2 separate regions of the Homo sapiens genome follow, and region 2 is linked to region 1. Evidence: fine-mapped expression QTL. Tissue or cell type: whole blood. Region 1 holds a variant in brackets; the other region holds the start of a gene. All regions are shown on one strand. Distances are from middle to middle. Region 1 overlaps ZFAND3 (zinc finger AN1-type containing 3). Region 2 holds the start of ZFAND3 (zinc finger AN1-type containing 3).

Region 1 (5,377 bases):
GACCAGCCTGGGCAACATGGTGAAAACCCTTCTCTTGAAAAATACAAAAATTAGCGAGACGTGGTGGCACACACCTGTAGTCCTAGTTACTCATCAGGAGGCTGAGGTAGGAGGAGGATTGCTTGAGCCCAGGAGATTGAGGCTGCAGTGAGCCGACATTGTGCCACTGTGCTCCAGCCTGGGTGACAGAGTGAGACCATGTTTCAATAACAACAAAAAAAGGATGTGTTTGTCTTTCTAATATGGAAATGAAATCATCAATTACTAACTTCCAGTATGTTTCAGTTAAGCCTTTTAGAGGGGCTTCAGCCTTTTGAATGAAAGCAGTGAGGTTGAGTGAAGGTTTGATACTCACTTCCATGTTCTGTTTGCTGCATCTGAACCACTAGCAGACTGACTTGAGGTTTCTCTCACAAAAGCTGAAGGGATTCACAGGTGCTTAGGTTAAGTACTGGAGAGACCTTCTTGCTGAGGCCTTTAACAAAATTGCAAAAGACAAAAGTAATTTAATTCCTTACTTGGTTCTCTGGTGCTGTATATAAAACCAATTGACATGTAACACTTGTAGCTGTTGAGGGTTAATTTTAAATATTCTGTTAGTTTGTTGAGTGTCCTCTGGTAATTCTGTTTTTAAATTCAGCGTTTGTATTTGTATATTTGGAAAGTATAGATACTGCCTGCAAAGGGTAAAGGTGGGGTTAATTTGGAATCTGAATATAAAATATTTGTTATAAAATGAATATAATAGCATTATGGCCAGGTACAGTGGCTTACTCTTGTAATCCCAGGACATTGGGAGGCCAAGCCAGGAGGATTGCTTGAGCCTAGGAGTTCAAGACCAGCCGAGGCAACATGGTGAAACAAAAAATACAAAATTATTGTATTTTGTATTTTTAATACAAAAATTAGCTGGGCATAGTGGCACATCCCTGTAGTCCCAGGCACTCGGGGGGCTGAGGAAGGAGGATTGCTTGAGCCCAAGAGGTTGAGGCTGCGGCTGTGGTGAGCTGAGATGATACCACTGCACTCTAGCCTGCCATGCACTCTAGCCTGAGTGGCAGAGTGAGACCCTGTCTCAAAACACCACCACCACCACCAAACAAACAAAACAAATATAACGTTAGTAAAAATTATAAAAGAAAATGTTGTTCATATCTTTTCAGGTGTGTTAGACCCTTCTAGTTCTTGTCTGTTGCTTCCACATCTGTTTCCAATAGCTGTAATCATGAATTAGATCCCATTTCCTTTTTTAAAAAAGTAATTTTAATTGAATGTAGACTTTTTCTTTTCAGATAGAGATGCAGCAGCAAGCTTCTTTTACTTACTTTTTTTTTTTTTTTTTTTTTTTAAGAGATGATGTCTCACTATATTGTCCAGGCTGGACTTGAATTCCTGGGCTCAGGTGATTCTCCTGCTTCGGCTTCCCAGGTAGCTGGGACTATATATAGGCATGAGCAACTGCACTGGCCATGTCCCATTTACTTAACATTTTACAAACATTACCCTATGTTGTTACTTAGTTTGGAAGTAGTTTCATAGATGATTTTAAATAGTAATAATTTCAGAGTAACATAAAGCTGGAAAATTGGCAAAGCATGTCAAGCTGTGTGCAGTAATTTAGGATGGATCCTTACACTTCTCTAAAAAGTATTCATTTTTAAAAGGTTGCTTTGATCACCAGTCTTGAAAGTTTTGAGAGTCTTTATTGGTACATAATGAGAATTTTTAAGCTTAGAAAACCAATTTTGTGTTAAAACTTCTTTATTTATTGGGTAGACTTGTATCAGAATTATAATTACCTGTATAATTGAAAAATCCTATAATTTAAGGTGTAAATATTTAAGCTTTCTAGTTAGAGTCACCAACAAAATATATAGGAATATTTAATTTCTTCTTTGACACGTGAAATATTCTGGCAAGCTTTCAGACTAGTAGAACAGTTTCCAGAGATTGAATAAAATTGTTTATCACTAATTTACTGGTCATCTAGATTACCACATTGGTTTTCTGGGAACTTCATCATTCAGGGGCTAATCATCCATTTTCTGAATTTTCTAAATTACTGTCAAAGCGTCTCCTATCTACTGTATCACCTTTCTTGCTACCAAGCTTTTACTTACAGCGCATATTCCGTTTAGTAGAGTAAGATGGAATAGCAAGAGTATGTAACATTGACCCTAGGTCAGTGGTCTGTGGTTCTTGGGTGGGAGAGATAAAGGAGGTTTAACAATTGAGAATTTCAAAGTCATCAGTGGCAGAGCACG[C/T]GCTCTAATAGCATGAATAATTTAATCATAACTAAGGTAGGACTGATGAAAATTTTAAACGTGCAATTCATAAAAATGTGCTTGCTTTTTAAAAATTGTTTTCCATAAATAAGTTGGAATCTATCCTCTGTACCTTGTAAGTTGCTAGCTGCTATTCTAAACAATAGTCCCTTTATGAGGTGAGAGGTTTTTGTTCTGTGGATATTCTCAAAGGGCAATATGACGAAATTCTGAAATAAAGGGACAGATTTTCTTTAAAAAGAAACAAACTACTTGGCCTGCTTGGAAAGGAATAAATAACTATAGCCTACAGTTTTTGCTTTTCTGGAATGCCAAATTTCAGCTCAGAGCAGATTCTTCAGCTGAGCAATAAACCTTTGAAAATTGCTTTATAATGGAAATGCTGACAGACCATTAACTATAGTGGTGCAAATGTGCTGCTCTGACATACATAAGGTTGTCCCAAGTTGCTAAATAGAATAAACCATGTTGGGCAGTGTACATCCTGTGGAAGCCTATGTGGGTGTATACAGTTTGTCATGTTATGCCACCTGATTATTAATGGGCGAAGTTCCATCATATCACCTTTGACATGCAGCAGAAGTACCGTTTTAGAAGGAAGGAGTGGTTTAGGCTCTGCTGATGCTGATAGCTCATTTTATATTTGCTATACTGGAAAAGGCCCAGGGTAAATTTAACATGATGCATTTAATCACCATTCCAATCACAGTGCCACTGAAGCAAATCAATGTTTTCTTACTACCAATTCATTGGAACTTCCAGGTCATAAAGTATCATTATTAGGCATATTGGAAAGTCTCAGCCCAATGAAAATGTGGATTCTGGGATTTTCCAGTTGCTTTGAAATAGTGACAGAGGCTGCCTGGCTGTACATTTTCCCCATGTATAATGAAAACTGGAATTTAAAGGGATTGATACGACAAAGCAAGAATTATATAATGACCTAGGGAAGGATGAAGCAGAATGTTCACTTCTAAAAGCAAAATAAGGAAAATGATGAAGAGGGGTGATTATTTCCATAGTAGCCTGCTTAGTGACTCATGTCCCTGCTAATAATAAGTATTGTGAGAATGTGTCTTATTCTTGGCTATATTCACAGCGCCTAGAACAGTGCCTGGCACATAATGTGGATGTCAGTCAATGTTGGATTTACTTGTGCTTGTTTATTTAAAAACTATTTGGGGTTAGATTGTCAGGAACCCTGCTACATGTTGTGTAAGGCTTCTAGTGTGTACGTGTGTGTATTTCATATAATACATTTATGTGTATGAGCAGTTGGAATTGATCACTAAAATATTTCTTAAAGGTAATATAAGTACAATTTGGTATGTTGAGTATCATGAATGAATCAATGCAAAGATTCAAGTATCTTTGGGTAGAATCATGTCCTTTGAAATGTCAGTGTACAGTAAAAAGGTCTGACATCATAACTAGATTATAAATCCTATACTCTTGTACTCCAAAGTCAGTATAGTTGGACTGGCTTGTATGTCCTGTTTGACAAAATATAAATTTTACTTTCCTGTGGCAATTCCCAAACTGGGCTGACCACTTGGACTTTTAAGAAAATGTAAGCACTCTTGGGCATTGACCCAACGATTTTCATTCACTAGATCCTGGGGTGGGGCCTAGGAATCTGTGTTTTTTAATAATTTCCTTTCTGTAGGTGTTTACATATAGTCAGTTTCTCTGCTACCCACCTTTCATGATATACTTTGAAATTTGGTGACAATCACCTTGGACCTTTTGGGTTCTCTGGAAATGGTAACCAGTAAGGTAATTAATAATTAATATCTTATACTGGTAGAGGGAAAGAAATGCTAACATGTGTCATACTAAAGATCTTTTAGGACTAGTGCTGACTTTCTGTTCATATATTTCACTGGAAAGCTATTGTCAGGACATTTTGCGGAAGGTGTTTTTTAAAATGTGGCATATTCATAGAGTTGTATTGCTGGAAGTTACCTTAGAAATCATTTAGCTTATTCCCTTTTATATTTGAGTTAATCTTAAAAATGTTAGGGTTAGGGTGTACCACTTATTAGTTAAGTTGCCTCATTTCTCTTAGCCATGGTTTCTTAAGCATAAGATGGGAATGATAATACCTACCTACCTTATAGTTTTTTTTAAGGATTTAACTGAAATTCAAAAAAAGTTGCTAGCATACATCTTGTTTGTAGCAGTGTAGCAAGTGTTCAGTAAATGTTTAATATTTTGACATACCTATAATATGATCTATGGTATACATAAAAGCCAAAAGAGGTAGAAAAAGTTATAGTAATTAAGTTCAAGTTAAAAATGTTGTACACCCACAGGCAGAGTTTTATTTTTAAATTATGGTATAATACTTACACAATACACCATTTTAAACCATTTTAACCATTTTTAAGTAAATCATTCAGTGGTGTTTAGTACAGTCAGTGTTATGCAGTCATCACTGTCTAGTTTGAGAACATTCTTATTACCCCAAAAGGAAACCTGTACCCATTGAGGAGCCACTTCCTATTCTTTTCTCTGTATCCGCTTGCAGCCACTAATCTATTTTTTGTCTTTATGGATTTGTTTATTCAGTCTCTTTCATATGAGTGAAATAATAAAAAATGACTTTTCACTGTATAATGTTTTCAGGGCTTATCCGTGTTGTTGTGTGTATCTTACTGCATAACTTCCATTTTTTTTAAATGACCGAATAACATTCCATTGTATGGATATAACAGCCTTGTTTATCCAGTAATCAGTTGATAGACATTTAGGTCCCTTCCACCTTTTGGCTGTGTGAGTGGAGCTGCCACGAACATGCATGTATAAGTTTTTGTTTGAACACCTATTTTCACTTTTTGGGTATACACGTGGGTGTGGAATTGCTAGGTCTTGTGGTAATTCTATGTTTAACTTACTGAGGAAGTCCAAACTGTTTTCCACAGTGGCTGCACCATTTTACACTCCATTAGCAATGTATGAGGGTTCCAGTTTCTCCACATACTGGCCAACACTTACTTTCTGTTTTTTTTTTTTTTAATTAAATTTTATAGCCACCCTAGTGTATCTTATTGTGGTTTTGATTTGCATTTTGCTGATGGCTAATGACAGGC
Region 2 (5,377 bases), 84 kb before region 1:
TATGTAGGGACCTGCTGGTGAATGCTACATTTTATTAATCCTTTTAGTCTCCAGAGTGCTTAGCAAAGTCCTTGTGTATACTGGGTACTGAATAAATGTTTGTTGAATAACTGGCAAACAGGAAAGCAGTTTGGAAAATGACAATCACTTTTTATGTTGAATTCTCCTTTTAGTTGTCGAGTTTCCTTTTCTGTACATAAAAGAAAATCATCAAGATGCCAAGAGAGATAATCCCACTTAATCTTTGTTAAACTCAAAGGCTGTTAAGTATCTCACGCATGTGGGAATTTTATGTCGGCTTAAATGAAGATTTAAGGGTAATATGAATCCAATGAGAGCAAGGTGTGCTGTATGGCTTTATCCTTTCTATGCATTTTTTCTTTCTTTCTTTCTTTTTTTGAGACAGAGTTTCGCTCTCGCTCTTGTTGCCCAGGCTGGAGTGCAATGGCATGATCTCGGCTCACTGCAACACCCGCCCTCCGGGTTCAAGCGATTCTCCTGCCTCAGCCTCCCAAGTAGCTGGGATTACACGCGTGCCACCATGCCCGGCTAAGTTTTTGTATTTTTTTTTTAACTAGCGACGGGGTTTCACCATGTTAGCCAAGCTGGTCTCGAACTCCTGACCTCAGGTGATCCACCCGTCTTGGCCTCCCAAAGTGCTGGGATTACAGACGTGAGCCACAGCGTCCGGCTTTTTCTATGCACTTTCTTACAGATATACTTATTGAAGGCTTTGGAAAATCCACCAAATTAAAACTAAACATTGTGCATAATAAATCAGCACTCACATTTTAGGGTGTTTTGGCTTTAAGTGCTTGATTTTTGCAATCATTAACTTCACCATCAACAGCATCTGTGGCATATTAAGCTAAATGCGATCCTTGCTCTTTAGAGGCCAAAATAAACATCAATGTTAACAAACCCACACAGTATGCACAAACAGAAATGTGATTTGGTATATAAAGAAATAAGATAGCAACATTTGGTAATCAAATTAATCTAGGTAATAGTCTCTCTGAGGCTCTGATATACCCGACAGGCAAGGAGGGTATACGGCAGCTATTCCTAAGAGCCAGGAAGTCTTCCTCAGCGATGGGTCTCCAAAAGGTCTGGAGGATGTTGCCTCCGTGTTGAATTAGTCATCAATAATCGATTTCTCTGTTCATGACTAACTGGAGATCAGAATGAGCTCAGGATCAAGGACTAGGATCGTTAAAGGACTCATTTTTTTAGTGTCTCAAACTTCTTTGGTCACTTACCAATTTCCATTACTGATTCAGCTACAGCTCCCCTTTCCCCTCCAAAAACCAAACGTGTCAGCTGTAGGAAGAAGTGCGGCTCTCCTAGCCTGGGCATAGGGACTCGCCTGGGCATAGATAATGTACTTGTGGCTCTGTGGTTGGGAGTGGAGACAAGGAACTCCCCAACACCGGTGGGGGAGAAGAGACAAGGAAGTTGCCCCAGACAAGGGGCTGGGGGAGGGGCATTTCCCAAAAGTTCCTGTCAAGAGACCAGTATACCGGGTGGAACTATAAGAGTTGTTTGGGTGTGGCGGGACCAGGAAGAGAGAGAGAGATGCCCAGGGAGTTGGCAAATTGGGGAGAATGGCTCCCCGGAATCGCCCAGGAGCCAGAGCGGCAGCTCCAGGGACCTTGACTCCGACGCCCCCGGGAAGCCAGAGCTCCACTTCCGCGTTTGGCATTGCTCCCCCAGGCCCCTCCTCGCACTCGGTTACGGGTTCTACGGGCGCATGCGCCGCCACTCTGGGACTGGCCCAATTTACCCTACACAACTAATCTGCTCCTCCCCCTCCCGCTTGGAGCGCACCATTCGCGTTTAGGGGGAGGCACCGCGCCCCGGAGTACTCAGAAACCTGCTCCCCTTCTTCAGACAGGGGGAAGATAAGTTTGCTTCAGATTCTAAAAGTTCTAAGAATACGAAGGCCTCAGCCGCCCGTCGCCGGGCGACAGCCCGAGGCTCTCGTTTTCTCCCACAGCCCCGCACTCCGCCTTTGAGGCGCGGAACGAAGTGGCACGCCCGGATCCCAGCTGATCAGCGGCTGGGCTTTGGCGTTGGCTCCCCCGGGCGAGACCATTGTGACTCCTCGGGAGGGGCGCACGCCGGGGAGGGGGCGGAGCGGCCATTGTCCGGTCAGCGCAGCCTCCGGGGGAGGGGACGGTGTTACGGAGACAGCAGGGCCCGGGGCTTCAGAGCGGCCGCTGCGACTCCGGAGCCGGCGGGGGGCTCCGGTCCTTCCCTGCGCCACCGCACAGGACATCTCTCTGGCTGGGGAGCGGCGGTGAGACCCGCCGAGGGCGTCTGTGTCCCTCCTCCCCCGCGGTCCTCGGTGCGTCCGCACGCCCCTCCTCCTCGGCTCCCTCCTTCTTCTCTCCGCGCCTCTCCGCCCCCTCCCCGTCTCCGCAGGCCGAGTGGTGCGGCCCGCCTCCAGCTGACCGGCCTGGAATCCCGGCTCCGAGCCCCGGACTCGCGCCCGCCCGCGCGCCCGCTCCTTCCCCCTCCCCCCGCCCCGAGCCCCCCGACGCCGCCGCCACCGCCTCCTCAGAGCGGGGCCCGGGCCCAGCCGCCGCCACCGCTGCCGCCGCCGAGCTCCGCCGCCGCCGAGCACCATGGGAGACGCTGGGAGCGAGCGCAGCAAAGCGCCCAGCCTGCCGCCTCGCTGTCCCTGCGGCTTCTGGGGGTAAGTGCCCGGCCGGGTGGGGGCGGGGGGCGGGGGCCGGGGGCGCAGACGCCAGGGCAGCCTGGGCAGGCCTCGGGGCCCGGGAGGCCGGAACCTTGGAGGCTGGGCCCAGCCCGGGCCTACGGGGAGGGGGTGGGGGTCGCGTTCCGGGGAGGGGTGCCGGGTGGGGAGCTGGGGGTGGGCAGAGAAGGCCCTGCCGGGGGTGCGTTGCTACCCTTTGGGACTCGCCGGCCTGAAGCTCGGGCCCACGGGGGCCTCCTGGGCCACGGGTGAGGGGGGCAGGGCGGCGGGGAGGGATGAGGGGGCGGCGTTGACCGCTCCGGGAGGAGCAGGGGTGCCCCTTCCGTGGGCATGTGGAAGCCAGCCCTTCCTCCCTCCCGGGGCGTGAGTTGGTGCCCAGGCACTAGGAGGGTATTTCCTCTGACTTCTTCACCTCCCCTCCTCCCCGTCCTCCGGAGACTTGCATCATCACTTCCTAGATTATATCCCAGTGCCCCATTTGCTTTTAGGAAGCTATTCACACGTCACCCGTTTGTAAAAACCGAGTCCAGAACCAGGCTGGGGTAAAGTTATAAGATTGTTGAGGTCTCACCTTCATGTAAAACACGTTTCAGGAGATATGTAAAATTTCCTTGTCAAAAAGGAAGAAAAAAACCACACAAAACCTGAAGTCAGCCTGGATTGGGGAATATGAGATCCAGTTTCCTCAGTTGGCTCTCAAATTCTCCTCTTTCTCAATTTAAGTAAAAATGATAAAAATGTTGACAGTGGGTAGCATATATTGTTTGGCCATCATGTGTTAAGGCGAAAAAAATGTGAGGTGGGAAATCAGCTCCTCTTCCTCCCCCCATTACTGTTTAAATTCTCCTGGTAACACTTTAAGCTTCATGGATTGCCACCTAACAGGTGCCTCCATCATACCACATGACTGTAGTTCTGCAGTAAGAAAGCTGGAGACTTTGAAGGCTGGCTTTTGTGATTTGAGTCCCTTTTCTCTTTTATCGTTTTGTTTTAGTTTTATTTTTTGAGAGATTCCGTATATTTGGAGACATAGAGGCAGGAAGGAAGATTGTTTCTGGTGAGGACATCTTGGGAAGAAGTATGGAAGTAGTTTTCCCTTTGCTATCTCCCATATTGTAGGAATGGTTAACAGAAATTAAGAGTAATTTTGGGAGTGCAGAGAAAGATTAGAAAGTGGATCTTAATGTAGACTTCTGTGGAAGTTGTCGTATCTCAAGGTTATGACAAAGAAGTGGATTTTCATTTTCTCATTTTTCTGCCTTTCTCAAAAATTTCCCTGTGGAAGGACATTAGTCAAAAATAAGTTGTGGCATATAAAAAGTCCTAAAAATGTGAAAATATTTCTAGTCTTCCCTTCATTTTGATTTGAAAATAATTGGTTTGCCTGTGAAGTGCTTTCATGGACTGTCTAATTCCCACAAGAATCTTGCGAGGTAGGAACCATTATCTCATTATTAGCTGGGGAAACTGAGGCTTTGGGTGGATAATTTGCCGCTTCACACAGGGAGTGTAGGGTGGAGCTGGTGAGCTCTTTAGAGTGCGTAGTACCATCATGTTTATGGTATCAGTCTGCTGCCCTGGAAAAATCTTGTGTCACAAGCCTCAGATTGTAACTCATTGTAAGACATATGTCCTAAAGAAAGTCGCTGCCAGTGGCAGCTAATGCTCAGGATGTATCAGGTCTCTTTCCTGGCAACACGTTTATGTCCTTCGGACTGTTACCATGAATGGAATCTTTATCGAAAGACTTATATCAAGGCTTAGAAACTAAGGAAATGGAATAGCCTTTTACCTTTATTTATTTATTTATTTTTGAGTCGGAGCCCTGCTCTGTTGCCCAGGCTGGAGTGCAGTGGCGTGATCTCGACTTACTGCAGCCTGCACCTCCCGGGTTCAAGCAGTTCTCCTGCCTCAACCTCCCAAGTAGCTGAGACTGCAGGTGCACACCACTATGTCCGGCTAATTTTTGTGTTTTTTAGGAGAGACGGGATTTTGCCATGTTGGCTAAGGTGGTCTCAAACTTCTGACCTCAGGTGATCTGCCTGCCTTGGACTCCCAAAGTGCTGGGATTACAGGCATGAGCCACCGCGCCCGGCCAGCCTTTTACCTTTAGCCGGTAGGGTTCTGATAATGCCAATAGAGTTTGGTGGCAGCAGACAGGAAAAGTTACACTAATGTTGTACTTGACCTATAAGCAACCAGGGCTTCTTTTTAGATATTTTCAGTCTGATACTTTTTATGAACTTCAGTTTACCTAGCAGGAGTAGTGACCACAAAACTAGTATTTTTATCGTGAAAAGTGTTCTTTTTGGTGCAATGTTTTAACCTTTCCTAAGGACGTTTGTAGACAATTGTGTAGTTTGTATTTTATACCAAAGCATAGCAACATTGCCGCCTTGTTTCCATCGTATCACAACTGACTTTGGACATGTTTCCCTTACTGTATGGGCCACATTCATATTTTGTTCACTGAGTAAACTTAGAATATATTTAACAGATATTTGAATGCCTGTGATATAATGGTGGGCAAGGAGGTGCTGGCCCCATACTCTGGGGCAGGGGGCACAGGGAAGTAAACTGACAGTTGCAATACGTTGTACAGGTGCTCTAGGGGAGGGGCACCTACCCTAGCTGGGGTGGAGGTAGAGGAAAGTAGCC

Evidence for each region. PIP is the estimated chance that this variant, and not a neighbour inherited with it, causes the effect.
Region 2: ZFAND3 starts here. The variant in region 1 is fine-mapped to the expression of ZFAND3 in whole blood (TOPMed, PIP 0.91).

The regions. Positions count from the first base shown.
Region 1 is chr6:37,901,413-37,906,789 of GRCh38, forward strand. The region is part of intron 1 of ZFAND3 (zinc finger AN1-type containing 3); the gene reads left to right. Among named protein-coding and RNA genes, the nearest start is that of ZFAND3, 84 kb to the left of the region's middle. The variant C/T (reference allele first, on the strand shown) is at 2,265.
Region 2 is chr6:37,817,319-37,822,695 of GRCh38, forward strand. It overlaps ZFAND3 (zinc finger AN1-type containing 3), which reads left to right and starts at 2,409. Exons shown (of 6, transcript NM_021943.3): 1 at 2,409-2,698. The coding sequence starts at 2,628. ZFAND3-DT (ZFAND3 divergent transcript) reads right to left here and starts at 2,069. Exons shown (of 2, transcript XR_007059569.1): 1 at 1,260-2,069; 2 at 1-1,172. RefSeq lists enhancers at 1,616-2,005, 1,975-2,777 and silencers at 2,056-2,435, 2,476-2,705, 2,866-3,035.